Homo sapiens: one gene and its partners. The protein of the gene in region 1 interacts with the protein of each later gene in a biochemical or structural test. Each region holds a gene or a part of one and is shown on either strand. Other genes may lie near its edges.

Evidence for each region. The genes of interacting proteins can lie anywhere in the genome.
Region 2: of the proteins of ATF2 (region 1) and PRKCE, one has a biochemical effect on the other in vitro, tested with the Homo sapiens proteins (one study listed by BioGRID).
Region 3: the proteins of ATF2 (region 1) and CCDC6 form a complex in vitro, tested with the Homo sapiens proteins (one study listed by BioGRID).

What each region holds. Positions count from the first base shown.
Region 1 is NC_000002.12:175,157,484-175,162,695, forward strand, and holds part of ATF2 (cyclic AMP-dependent transcription factor ATF-2), read right to left. Parts: intron 1-5,212. UniProt on the Homo sapiens protein: Transcriptional activator which regulates the transcription of various genes, including those involved in anti-apoptosis, cell growth, and DNA damage response.
Region 2 is NC_000002.12:46,004,675-46,008,174, reverse strand, and holds part of PRKCE (protein kinase C epsilon type), read right to left. Parts: intron 714-3,500; coding exon 514-713; intron 1-513.
Region 3 is NC_000010.11:59,812,557-59,816,056, forward strand, and holds part of CCDC6 (coiled-coil domain-containing protein 6), read right to left. Parts: intron 2,200-3,500; coding exon 2,096-2,199; intron 240-2,095; coding exon 79-239; intron 1-78.

The DNA.
Region 1 (5,212 bases):
GCCATGCTGTGGTGTGGTCAGGCCAGCGACTCTTACCAATTAAACAGCCAATATGTTCACCACTAAGTAGATCCTATTGATTGGTTGATGATTGCTGCTGATGTGGCCCCTTTCCCACAAACATAAAAAAATAAAGGGAAGATCTGGGGCCAACACTGAAGGGGGAGGGGCACGCTAGCACAATGACACTAGACACGACTTTATTCCCTTTCAAACATCTGTTATCATGGGCTGGGCACAGTGGCTCATGCCTGTAATCCCAGCACTTTGGGAGGCCAAGGTGGGTGGATCACGAGATCAGGAGTTTAAGACCAGCCTGGCCAAGATGGTGAAACCCTTTCTCTACTAAAAATACAAAAATTAGCTGAGCGTAGTGGCAGGTGCCTGTAATCCCAGCTACTCAGAAGGCTAACGCAGAGAACTGCTTGAACCCGGGAGGCAGAGGTTGCAGTGAGCCGAGATCGCGCTACTGCACTCCAGGCTGGGTGACAGAGTGAGACTCTGTCTCAAAAAAAAAAAAACACCAATATCTGTCATCATGTAGGCACAGCCAAGGTGAACTGAAGCAGGATACGAACACTCAGTACATTCATGACTATCTTCATACATTCCTGAAATGATCCTAGAGATCACCTTGGGAATAGCAAAGTGGTCATAATAACAAACCTAAATCAAGGAGTTTGAAAACCTGCAGCCACGACCTAGTAGGACTTCACTTGCCTCTCAAGACTAAAGTATTTTGAATTCAGGATTTTTTTTTTTTTTTTTTTTGAGACAGGGTCTTGCTCTGTAAGTACAGTGGCCCAACCATGGCTCACTGCAACCTGGATCTCCTGGGCTCAAGTGATCCTCCCACCTCAACCTCCTCAGTAGGCGGAACCACAGGTACACATGCCACCACACCCAGCTAAATTTTTTTTGGAGTGACCGGTCTCACGATGTTGCCCAGGCTGGTCTTGAATTCCTTGAGCTCAAACTCTTATTTTAAATTATCCAGGGATAATTTTAAAATGGATAACTTAAAATGGATATTTTAAATGGATAATTTAAAATAAGAGTGCCTTAAAGCTTCCTGATCCTACGGCAAGAAGCAAACGTCTGGGGGGAACACTGGAAACTGAGGTCATCTCTACAGGAACCCAAGTGGATATTTTAAATGGATAATTTAAAATAAGAGTGACTTAAAGCCTCCATTAATCAAGGCAATGATCCTCCTGTATTAGCCTCCCAAAGTGCTGGGATTGTAGGTGTGAGCCACTGCCCCTGGCCAGGAAAATTTTAAATTGTATGATTACACTATGATCCTCTACAGTAAAAAAAAAAATACATTTCAGGGCTATCAAAATATATAAAAGTAACATATGTAAAATACACAGAATAGTGCATGACACTAAAATAGTATTTATTAAGTTCATAAATTTTACTGCATTTTACTTTGACTTTAAATGTACATTTTTCTAATGCCTAATAAATACCTAATCTTACTATCTTCTTTATTTTTAAGGCCAGAAACTGAACTACATACTCAGTTTGACTTTTAGATAAGAGTTTTGGCCAGGCATGATAGCTCAACCCTGTAATCCCAGCACTTTGGGAGGCCAAGGTAGGCAGACTGCTTGAGGTCAGGAGTTCAAGACCAGCCTGGTCATCATGGAGAAACCCCGTCTCTACTAAAAATACAAAAAAATCAGCGGGGCGTGGTGGCGGAGACTATAGTTCCAGCTGCTCAAAAGGCTGAGGCATGAGAACTGCTTGAGCCTGGGAGGTGGAGGGTTCAGTGAGCTGAGAACCTACCACTGTACTCCAGCCTGCGCGACAGAGCAAGACTCCGTCTCAAAAAAAAAAAAAAGTTTTATATTAATCTTTAACCCATGATTCTGATGCTATCTGTAAGTTTATTTGATATATAATGTTTAGTTCATCAATTTAGGTAACTCAAATTCATCAGCTGAGAGAAAAATATTAAGCCCAATGTTAACAAGGAAAGCAGCAGTATTTTTTCCCCCACTCACAGCAGACATGAGAGAGGTCCTTCACACAATTCCCAAGAGTATACTAAAATTTTGATGAAATTTCTCAAAGTTGATGGTACACGTAAAAAGTATCACAAACTTCTCCAGACTGTATTATGAGTATGTGAAGAGTGAAATCAGTTCAATATCTCAAAAATATTCAATTAAAATATCAGTAGTCCAATTTTTAAATTAAATATTTTTTAAGTGAGTCTTGATTATTCCTAGGCAATGTAAAGAAAGCAAGTAGTTTTATAGTTTAAAATTATAATAGAATAACAAATACATAAATACAAAAAATTTACAGAGTAATAATTATGAATATAAACAACAGTAGCACAAGTTGTGCTAATAACATCACCTTAGATTTGGTAACAGAATTATGTGGTCTAAGGTCCATAGCATTATTTTTGCCCAAGGTAGGTGATAAAATACCTTTCATTGCTTTTTTTCTCCTGAGAAACTTATTTTTTGTAAAAGCAAAAAGAAAATAGAAATAGAAATTCAGTTCTCCAAGAATTACAGTAATTCATAGTCATCACCATTATGAAAAATACATCAATAAAAATTTCTCATTATGAAGAGGGCACAAATAAAATACACTACCGGCTTGGTGTGGTGGCTCACGCCTGTAACCCCAGCGCTTTGTGAAGCTGAGATGGGAGGATTACTTGAGGCCAAGAATTCAAGACCAACCTGGGTAACATAGTGAGACTCCATCTCTACAAAAAATTAAAAAATTAGCTGGGTATAGTAGCACATGCCTGTAGTCCCAGCTACTCGGGAGGCTGAGGTGGGAGGATTGCTGAAGCCCAGGTGTTTGAGGCAGCAGTGAACTACGACTGCACCACCACACTCCAGCCTGGGTGATAGAGACCCTGTCTCTAAAAATGAAATAAAGTAAGACTATGGATTATGTACTATGCCCATTAAAACAATGATAAGCTCACCTCTTTCTTCCGTTTTCAAAGTATGTCAAAATTCAAGTAAGTAAAGTGTATTACTACAAAAAATATCCCTCGACCCAACATCCATATATCAACAATCATTAAAACCTACCTTACAAATGATAAAATATTTCACTGATTCTCAACTTTGTGGCCAAAAATTGATAGTGTAGTTATAATTGTATAATTAGCAGAGACTTCAAAACAACTTTAGAACTGTGGTATTTTAATCATAATCTCAATCCCACTATGGGGAAGGAGAAATGAAAGGTTTCCCTAGAATGTTTATAATAGGATTGGTGGAGTAGAAGAAAAGAATAGTTGGGGTGGGGAGCAGCCTGTAATCCCAGCACTTTGTGATACTGAGGTGGGAGGATCGCTTGAGCCTGGGAGTTTGAGACCAGCCTGGGCAACGGCAAGACCCCATCTCTACAAAAATTTAAAAACTAGCTGAGTGTGGTGGCATGTGAGTGTGGTCCCAGCTATTTGGGAGGCTTAGGTGGGAAGATCTCTCGAGCCCCAGAGGTGGAAGCCGCAGTGAGACTTAGTCGCATCACTGCACTCCAACCTGCATGACAGAGTAAGACTTTGTCTCAAAAATACAAAGATAATTGGATTTTATGAAAATCACAGTATCATAATTTTATCATCTTAAAATAAGGATATGCTATACTGAAGGAATTTGATACAGAAAATGTCTGAGAAGGGGTACATATGGAACAAAAAAATATGAGACATTCTCTCAAATGAATTTACGAAAATTCTAAGGTGGCATGTTCCTCCACAAATTATAAATTCTTAGGGAAAAATAACTTTGTTGCCAAAGCTACCAAGTAGATGGTTGCTGTACTGCTTTCAAGCTACAGCACAAGCATGCCTGGAGGGCTAGGCTAGATTATTTCTGAATGAACTTCAATAATAATTCCCACAACACAAACTGAGTACTCATTAAGTTCTTGACACTGTATTAAGTATTGTATATATATCACATGAATGCTCACAGCAAGACTATGAGTTAAATTATTCTCCTTAAAGAGAAGGAAACTGAGGCAGAGAGGTTATATAATTTACTCAAGATAACACAGTAAGTGGTAGACCCCTGATAATCTGGCTTCTAATAACTATCCTAAAATATTGATTACACACTTAACTATGTGCCAGGGACAAAACTCAGTCAATTTGGCTATCATATACTCATATACACTTTCTTTATTCCAAGTGTTTCCTACATGGAAATGAATTTGTCATTATAAATCTTAATAAATCATAATGACACATTCATAAGACAGAACTATGAAATGTATAGTTCAGAAAGTAACTCTTTTTTTTTTTTTTTGAGACACCGTCTCGCTCTGTTGCCCAGGATAGAGTGCACTGGCGTGATCTTGGCTCACTGCAACCTCTGCCTCCCAGGTTCGAGCAATTCTCCTGCCTCAGTCTCCCGAGTAGCTGAGATTACAGGCACCCGCCATCATGCCCAGCTAATTTTTGTATTTTTAGTAGAGATGGTGTTTTCTCACATTGGCCAGGCTGGTCTCGAACTCCTGACCTCAGGTGATCCACCTGCCTAGGCCTCCCAAAATGGTGGGATTACAGGCATGAGCCACCATGCCCAGCCCAGAAATTAACTCTTAAACTAGCATTAAAATACTCAGTGTACAAACCACATAAAACTGCATGAAATCTAAGAATTATTGTTACCAGTCTGTCAAAAGTTTTGGTAAACTTTAAAAGAAACAAAGACAGTAAAATGTCAGAAAATATGAAATACACAATATTTGTCACATCACATAGATCACTGGTAGATAAATAACTATAGTATGATATGGCCAACTAAATAATTTTAAAACTGCTAAATAATACAACTTATTCCCAGAAATAATTCCCAATTAGGTAATCACGCTTCATTAATCATAACTCCCAAGTTCACAAAAGTATGGCAAAGCTAACGCATTCATGCTCTGCTGACAGTGTAAACTCGCTCAAGTCTTTGGGGAGGCAAAAATCTGGCAACTGTAGAAACATTTATATCCTTTGACTAGTAATTCATTTGAGATTAGTATCCTATAGAAACAATTCATAAAAGAAAAAATGCACAGAGATGTTCAATTCAATGTCAAAATAGGCATAAACTGAAAACTATTATTTTCCTGTCAGGCATTTAGAACAAATTTAATACTTATTTTTCAACTATCAAGTAACAATCAAATATCATAAAGGTTATACAACATGGAAAAATACAATGCTATAAAA
Region 2 (3,500 bases), about 130 Mb from region 1:
AAACAGAACATTTATTACATGCCAGAAAGATCAGTTAAATAACATTTACCTTCCAAAGTAATGCATGCTAAATTTGCTTTAAACCCTAGGTTTGCTGAGGGCAGAGATTCATTCTCAAAGTCTTCATAACAAATTAAAAACAGAATTTCAGCTGATCTCTGAAGGAGGGAAGACATGTATTGACACTACTATTGATTTGGAACACTGAGCATTTAAAACTTTCCAAAGTGCTTTCTCATCTACCATCTCACTTGATTCCTGTCCCCATTCAACAAATGAGAAAAATTGAATTCCAAAGAGATTAAATCACTACTTGAAAGTCTCATATAGCCAATTAATAGCAGAACCAGCGCTCCTATCTACTTGGCCTCAGGTCATTTGCACTTACAAAAAAGGAAAGAAAACCTAACGAGATCAGGCTGAAAGGTTCCTCTCTCAATCTTAGATCAAACAGACGAAACAATGCTAAGGAGTAGAACAAAACCAGCAGTTCCACCCGTGTGTGCCACAGACCTTGCCAAAGCTGCCTTTGCCCAACACCTTGATGAAGTTGAACTCATCCAGGCCCAGGCGCTTGGCCTGGCCTTGCCGGACTTCGCCATTCTCACCGGGGCTCATCAGCTGGCCATCAGGAGACGATGCTGCCCGGTGCTCCTCTCCTCGGTTGTCAAATGACAAGGCTTTCCGAATGTTGTTCTCAAGTTCTTTTATTTCTAGGGCCAAGGGGAACAAGAAATTGCATTAGTGCATACCTCTTAAGCCTGTTACATTAGGACTCAACACTCAGACTTTCCCCTGTAAGCTCTCAGTCCTCTTTCTGGTTCTTCACAACAGATCCAGTGTGACATCCCTTTGTATGTTCCTTCATCTGTTCACCACACTCTTATTGGCACCTAATGCGCAGCAGAGCTTAGGTATGCAAAGAGGAGGAGGACACAGTCCCTTCCCTGCCCTTGTCAACTCCAGATTACACTGGACCTGGCTGTCTCTCTGAAAGCCCCCTTTGGCTAGTAGCCTATTCCACTGTTCTAGGTAAAGCACACAAATCTGGGCCCTCTCTGGAATTCTGCAGAGTCACAGGTATCCTTCAAGTTTCCTCTGAAGATGAGAACAACGAATCAAGAACTGTCATCACAGTAATCACTGGTGATATAATTATTTCAACAACTGAGCCATCAGAACGGTGGCTGATCACTGAAGGTAGAAACCTTCATACCTTCTAAAAACCTTTACTCAGCCTTGTTGCCGGGTTTCTTCTAAATACCCATCTTACACAAGGTTATCTAACAAAATGAGCAATGGGCTTATTATTAACAAAAGAATTGCTTTCCCAAGTGACATGTTGCAAACTTATCTCCAATGGGGCGGGAATTTCTCAGTACAATTTCTCAACTACGAGACAGTCTTGTGCCCCGCTCTAGAGCTTATGACCTGAATTACCTGGGGGAGATAATGCTGGATGATCCTCTGACCTTTTCTATTTGAAGAAGCTTTACTGTTAGCAACTCATTCATCAAGACACGCACTCTTCTGTGTGGAAATGGGCATCTTGAGCAAAATCCGATTTTAAATGATGCTTGTGAATAACTTGGATTATGGAAGGGGAACATAGCCTATTAACCCTTGGGAATGAGAATTAGGCATGAGTGACAGAAAGAGATCTTCAGCTTCTTTTCAGAAGGACAGAGTCCCATAAGGGCTTACTCAAGGAATCCGGAGATCTTTCCTAGATCTGGAGTTTGGCTCCTCTGAGACGTGTTGGGGAGGGTGAAGACGGGGAAAGCTGCTGAGTCTGCAGACACTCCCCTTGCCAGTTCAGCAGTTATCCACCTATCACTTAGCTTGACTAAATAACTTTTAATCTCACAATAGAGCTAAAAGCCTCAGTTATTAAATGAATTTTGGAAGGCAAAACATAGTTGTTTGGGGACAGCAAAGCTTGAAGAAAAGGTTTTTCTATGTGTCTTTACAAGGGAAGAAAAAGAAACTATGTCTTATTTCTGTTCTGTAATAATGTCGCTCAGAGGGACATCTGTGCTAACATCACTACTGGGAAATCCTGGCGTCTGTGTCAAGTGGGATGAACAGAGGCCCTGGGGCCGCTGTATCCTGCCACTGTATCCATCCAATGGCAGAGCTCAGAGCCAGAGAGCATGCAGGGCAGGAGCCAGGCCTACAAACCCTGGTCTCTGAACTCTTACCTGGGGTCTCTTTTCTATATGACCCTGTCTCCCTGAAGCTCCCAAAGGGGATCTCAGCCTCAGAAAGGAACACGTGAAAACCCCCAAACTGGTCTGGGAAAATAGCTACAAGTTCTGCAGCCCCAGAGTACATCAGGCTACTTATGAATGCTTCAAATCTCATTTGGAATGAGGTAGAGTATAAAGACACAGAAAGTTAATTGGAGTAGCACGAAGAGGGACTGAGACCAATTATTCTGTGGCCTCAGGGCTGGTGCATGACCCCCGAAGCTCTTTTATTTACTCCTGGGTAAGAAGGTCTGGGTCATGGTGGTGACCTCCAAGGAAGGTTTGATGGCAGGGTTTCTGAGAGTGTGTCCCTCAGCCAGCATGGGTACAGTCTTGCCCTTACCACTGACTTATCTCCAAACCTTGGGACAGAACTTTTCCACACTCTGACCTCCCACTTCCCACTCACTAACCTGGGGGACAGTAATGAAGCACCAACATAGAGTGGGTATGGGCATAAAATTAGGATAATGAATACAAAAAGGGATATAGAAAAACCAAGGCACCATTGTCAGGCTGTGATGGTTATTCCTCTTCTGCAGATGCATATGTCCCTTACCAGGCATATCTGATAATGGTCACGAGAGCAGGAGGTTTTGCAAGTGTAAGTCCCTCCTCAGCCTCATCATTCTCGGATGGCTGCAGAATTATTATTGTGCAAATTATGTCTGCAGAACTTATTGTCTGAAGCACAGTCGGACAGAAGGAGATATCTGGAGCTGTAGAGGGGAAACAGGCCTAGGACTGGCCTCCTTCCCACTTCTTTTCTCAGTCTCTCCTCTAGCTTCATCTTTCTATCCTCACCCACCCAAAGGCCAGGATAGAAGACATCCTCCCTCACCCAGCCCCAAACTCAAGCTGATCTCAGGTTTTGGGTATGATGATGGGGGAGGGAGTGTCAAACTCAACTCAAGGGAGTGGTGTTGACAGGTCTAGGGCCAGGCAAGAGCTTTAAGAGAGGGAGCTGTACCCTTCTCTCTGCAGTACACTTGGAACCAGGGACAGAGGCAAGGGAAAACAGATAACCATAACATCATACACTCGCTCTCCTCTTACCCTGGCCTGGAAGGAAATTAAGGCAGATATGGCCATGGAGTGCCCAGCCCTCAAGAAGGTCTTGGAGAATGAAAGAACTGTTAAATCAACAGGCAACGGGTGTGTGAAAACCCACCAGGGCTGCTAGCTATTTCAGCTAACAAGCTCACTCTTGGTTAAAGAGGCCTCAGAGCTCCTTGGTCCATCCAATGGCAG
Region 3 (3,500 bases), on another chromosome or scaffold:
AAATGTTGGTAATACCCTATATTTGGTAAAGTTATTAATTCTACAGGCATGAAACTAGTGAAACCAGAGGCTACGTACGCTGTAACTGAGCAGCTCTCAGTTGCTTCTTCAGCCGTTCCACTTCATTCTTTAAAAACCTGATGTGACGCATCATATTTTCTGGAGAATCAATCTCCATGGAGATATCTCTAGGCGATGGTGGAGCAGAGACGGGCTGGTCTAATTTTTCCTGCAGGATTCTTCATTGAAAAGAAAAATTCCAACAATGACTAACAGTTTTCCTTGAAAAGACAAAACAACATACTAGCTGGCAGGTTTGTTTTAAAAGCAAACTCCTGTTTACTGCCAGAATTCACAGGGTTGCTTAATTCCTCTGCCCATTTTACATCAAACTTCTGCCCTTACGTGGTGTCTCACTTCAAAGGGCAGAGCTGATTCTAATCTCCCTTTTTCCTTTTAAATGACTATTAAATGTTTTAAATTAAACAATACTGAAAAGTCTTTATTTAACAACAGGATCTGATAATTATGCCTGGAATACAGTATGCACTTAGAAATACCTGCTGACTCAATGTTCAACTTCTTGGGTTTAGTGCATGAAGATGCTGAGGAAATTCCATTTTCTTACGGCTTTTGATTGAAGCTTCTAAGCTACTATGAATCTCCTTGGAGGGTAAAGTAACACAGAGACTCAACTTCTAAAATTCCCTCCTGCAAAACTAATTGCAAGGGCATGGCAAACTGGACTAGCGGCCCTTTGCTTTTGGCCACAGCAAAGGTAAAAAGTTAAAAACAAAACCAAAATTGTTAGGTTAATAATTAGTAGTGCCACCTTCTTTACCAATTATTTTTATGTTGAAGGATATAAAATACTGATATTCAATAGCTCTGACCTACAAAATGCAAACTTCCATACTGTTCAACCCAATAATTTGGCACTAATACATGTAAAACCTCCAACTGCCTTTTACAAAGTCTTCCTTTGGCAGCAGATCTCTAAATCCCTTTCCATAGCTGCTGGGGTTTTTGTTTTGTTTTTGCTTTGTACCTTTGAGTTTGTCCAGGAGCAAACTGAGTTACCTCCATCCAGGTCTACCCTTGAGAAAACTAGTGTGTTAAATATTATAATGGTCCCTGCATTTATTACATAAAATGACTTTTCGTAATTCAACTTATTAGTACTGCTACAATAATACCTATCAGTAAAGCATAGTGGATATGATTATAACAAGTATTTCTTATAGATATAGCTCTAATTTTCACTTTTCTTAAAGCTATGTGGTATGCCTGTATTTTGCAAATGTAGACATGAACTCAAAACAATTACAAATATGCATCCAAACCAAATACTTAAGGAGGAAGGGCTCTGGGTAGCAAACAAAAGATCTTGGTGAAGTAGATTAATGACCATTTTTAAGAAACTCACTTTTTACACCCGTACACACATTCCACATACAGAATCTTCTTCCCATTCTTACAAGCCCTGCCTCACACACTCCAAAGTACTCAGTGCTTGAAAATAAGGGCTTAACTATCTTGCACAAAGAGGTTTAAGAAATGTTTGCTGTTGAGTGACATTCCACTTCCAAGTACATACATTTTATATAAAGAATCCTAGCCTTAAGTATGTAAAGGTATTTCTTTACAGTAGGTTTTAAAACAATTTTATTATTAAAATCTCAGGCTTCCTAAAGAAGTAAATTCCAGAGATGTATAAATAATAGTACGCAGTATACCCTATGTACTTTACAAAACAACTGAGGAAGCCAGTTCAATAAGGTGGAAAGTTGAAATTGCAACCATTCTTGAAAATACTTTAAAGGTGAACAATAGCAGCATGACTAATTCTCTCATAGCCTTGTAACACCAAATGAAAAGAAATTCTACTGGGACAGTATGATAGCAAAGAATAAAGAGGTGCCCAACATGGGAATAGTTCAGAAGGCTTTCAACATTTTTTTTCCTTTGGCCAATTAAAATGATGTGCATCACCAAAGAATTAAGGTGTCCTACTGCTATTCCTCAGTCACACCCAGAGCAGCAACACACACACACACACACACACACCCATACTGAACAGCAAGACTAAACAAACCGCTTTTCAGCTTCAAGCTTATCCATCCTTTTCCAGAGGCGATTAACTAGTGCTTCTTGTTCTTGTTCCAATGTATTTTCAAGGTCAATCTTCTCCCGTCTCAACTAAAGGAAGGAAAAAAGTGTTACCAAAGTGTCAGGCCACTTATACTTTGTTAATACATTTTTTGATTGAACAATTAGGACCCCTTTTCTTGGAGAATACTGCAAACATGTGGCCAATTTTCTGGCACAAACATATTAAGTGCATCTAGTTCTTAAACTTTGAAAAAAACTAGATAGGTTCATTCTTGGATGTTAATGCTTAATTGTTGTCTGGTACATGAAATGCATTGCTTGTTTCAGCATTTATTCAAGGCAAGTGGAAAGTCCTCCTTAGAGAGGTCTTTAGGGGAGTTCGGTGTACTAGTCATATCAGGACTTTTCTGGGCTTGTCCCTTACAGTTCTGGGCTTACAGTTATTCTTCCGGGCTTGTCCCTTACAGTAAGTCAGAAAGGTTATATTACTATTCATATAAATAACTCTTAAAAGCTCCCAAACACTCTACATACTGGCTAATGGAGATAAATAAACATGTACTAAGATATAAAAACACGCACAAAATATGATAAACACCAAATCCACAATACTGGTTACTCTAGGTTACTCTAAGGATTTAGGGAAGGAAGAAAATTTGATTTGGGGGAGGCTTTGCAGTTGCGGAGGGAACCCCAACAGTGTTCTATTTCAATGAAGCAAACATGGGAAAATTCAATTAATCAATATTGAGCAATATGTAATAAATACTGAGAACAATGACTGGATAATGGGGGCATAGCAGTGAATCAAGGAGTCAGGAATTTCTGCCCTCATGGATCTTCCTTTTAGTGGGGGTCAAGACAGTAAATGAAACAATTATATACTTGTGAAACAGTATGAAACAGATATGTAGAAAAAGAGGGCTGGTAAGAGAGACTGAAAGTGCAAGAGGTTTCATAGCAATGAGTAGAGGACATGTATTCTATCATTCTCCGTACTTGACATATTAAATAATTAAAAATTTTTTCTTAATGCAAAGAGCCTATGCTACTGCTTCCATGTTATTTCTTCAACCAGTGGCAATTCACCTTTCAATGGTTGAGTCAACAAATTATTCTTGATTGCACAAAGATGTTAATAGATTCCACATTTCCTTAGTGGGTCACAGAGGCAAGCTCCTCATCCAAAGATCCCGTGTGTATACATAAGGCAGAACCAAAAACATGAATAAAATGTAGTCTTTTAAAGCAATCAAACATCAGAAAATAATATCCAAAGTGCGGTTTTACTTTTACAGCCAAATGACATTCCCCTTTCTGAAACTCTTCGTAGCTTAGTCTTAAGAAGCAACAATCTCAACCTCCCGAGATGGTTAGTACTACCAACA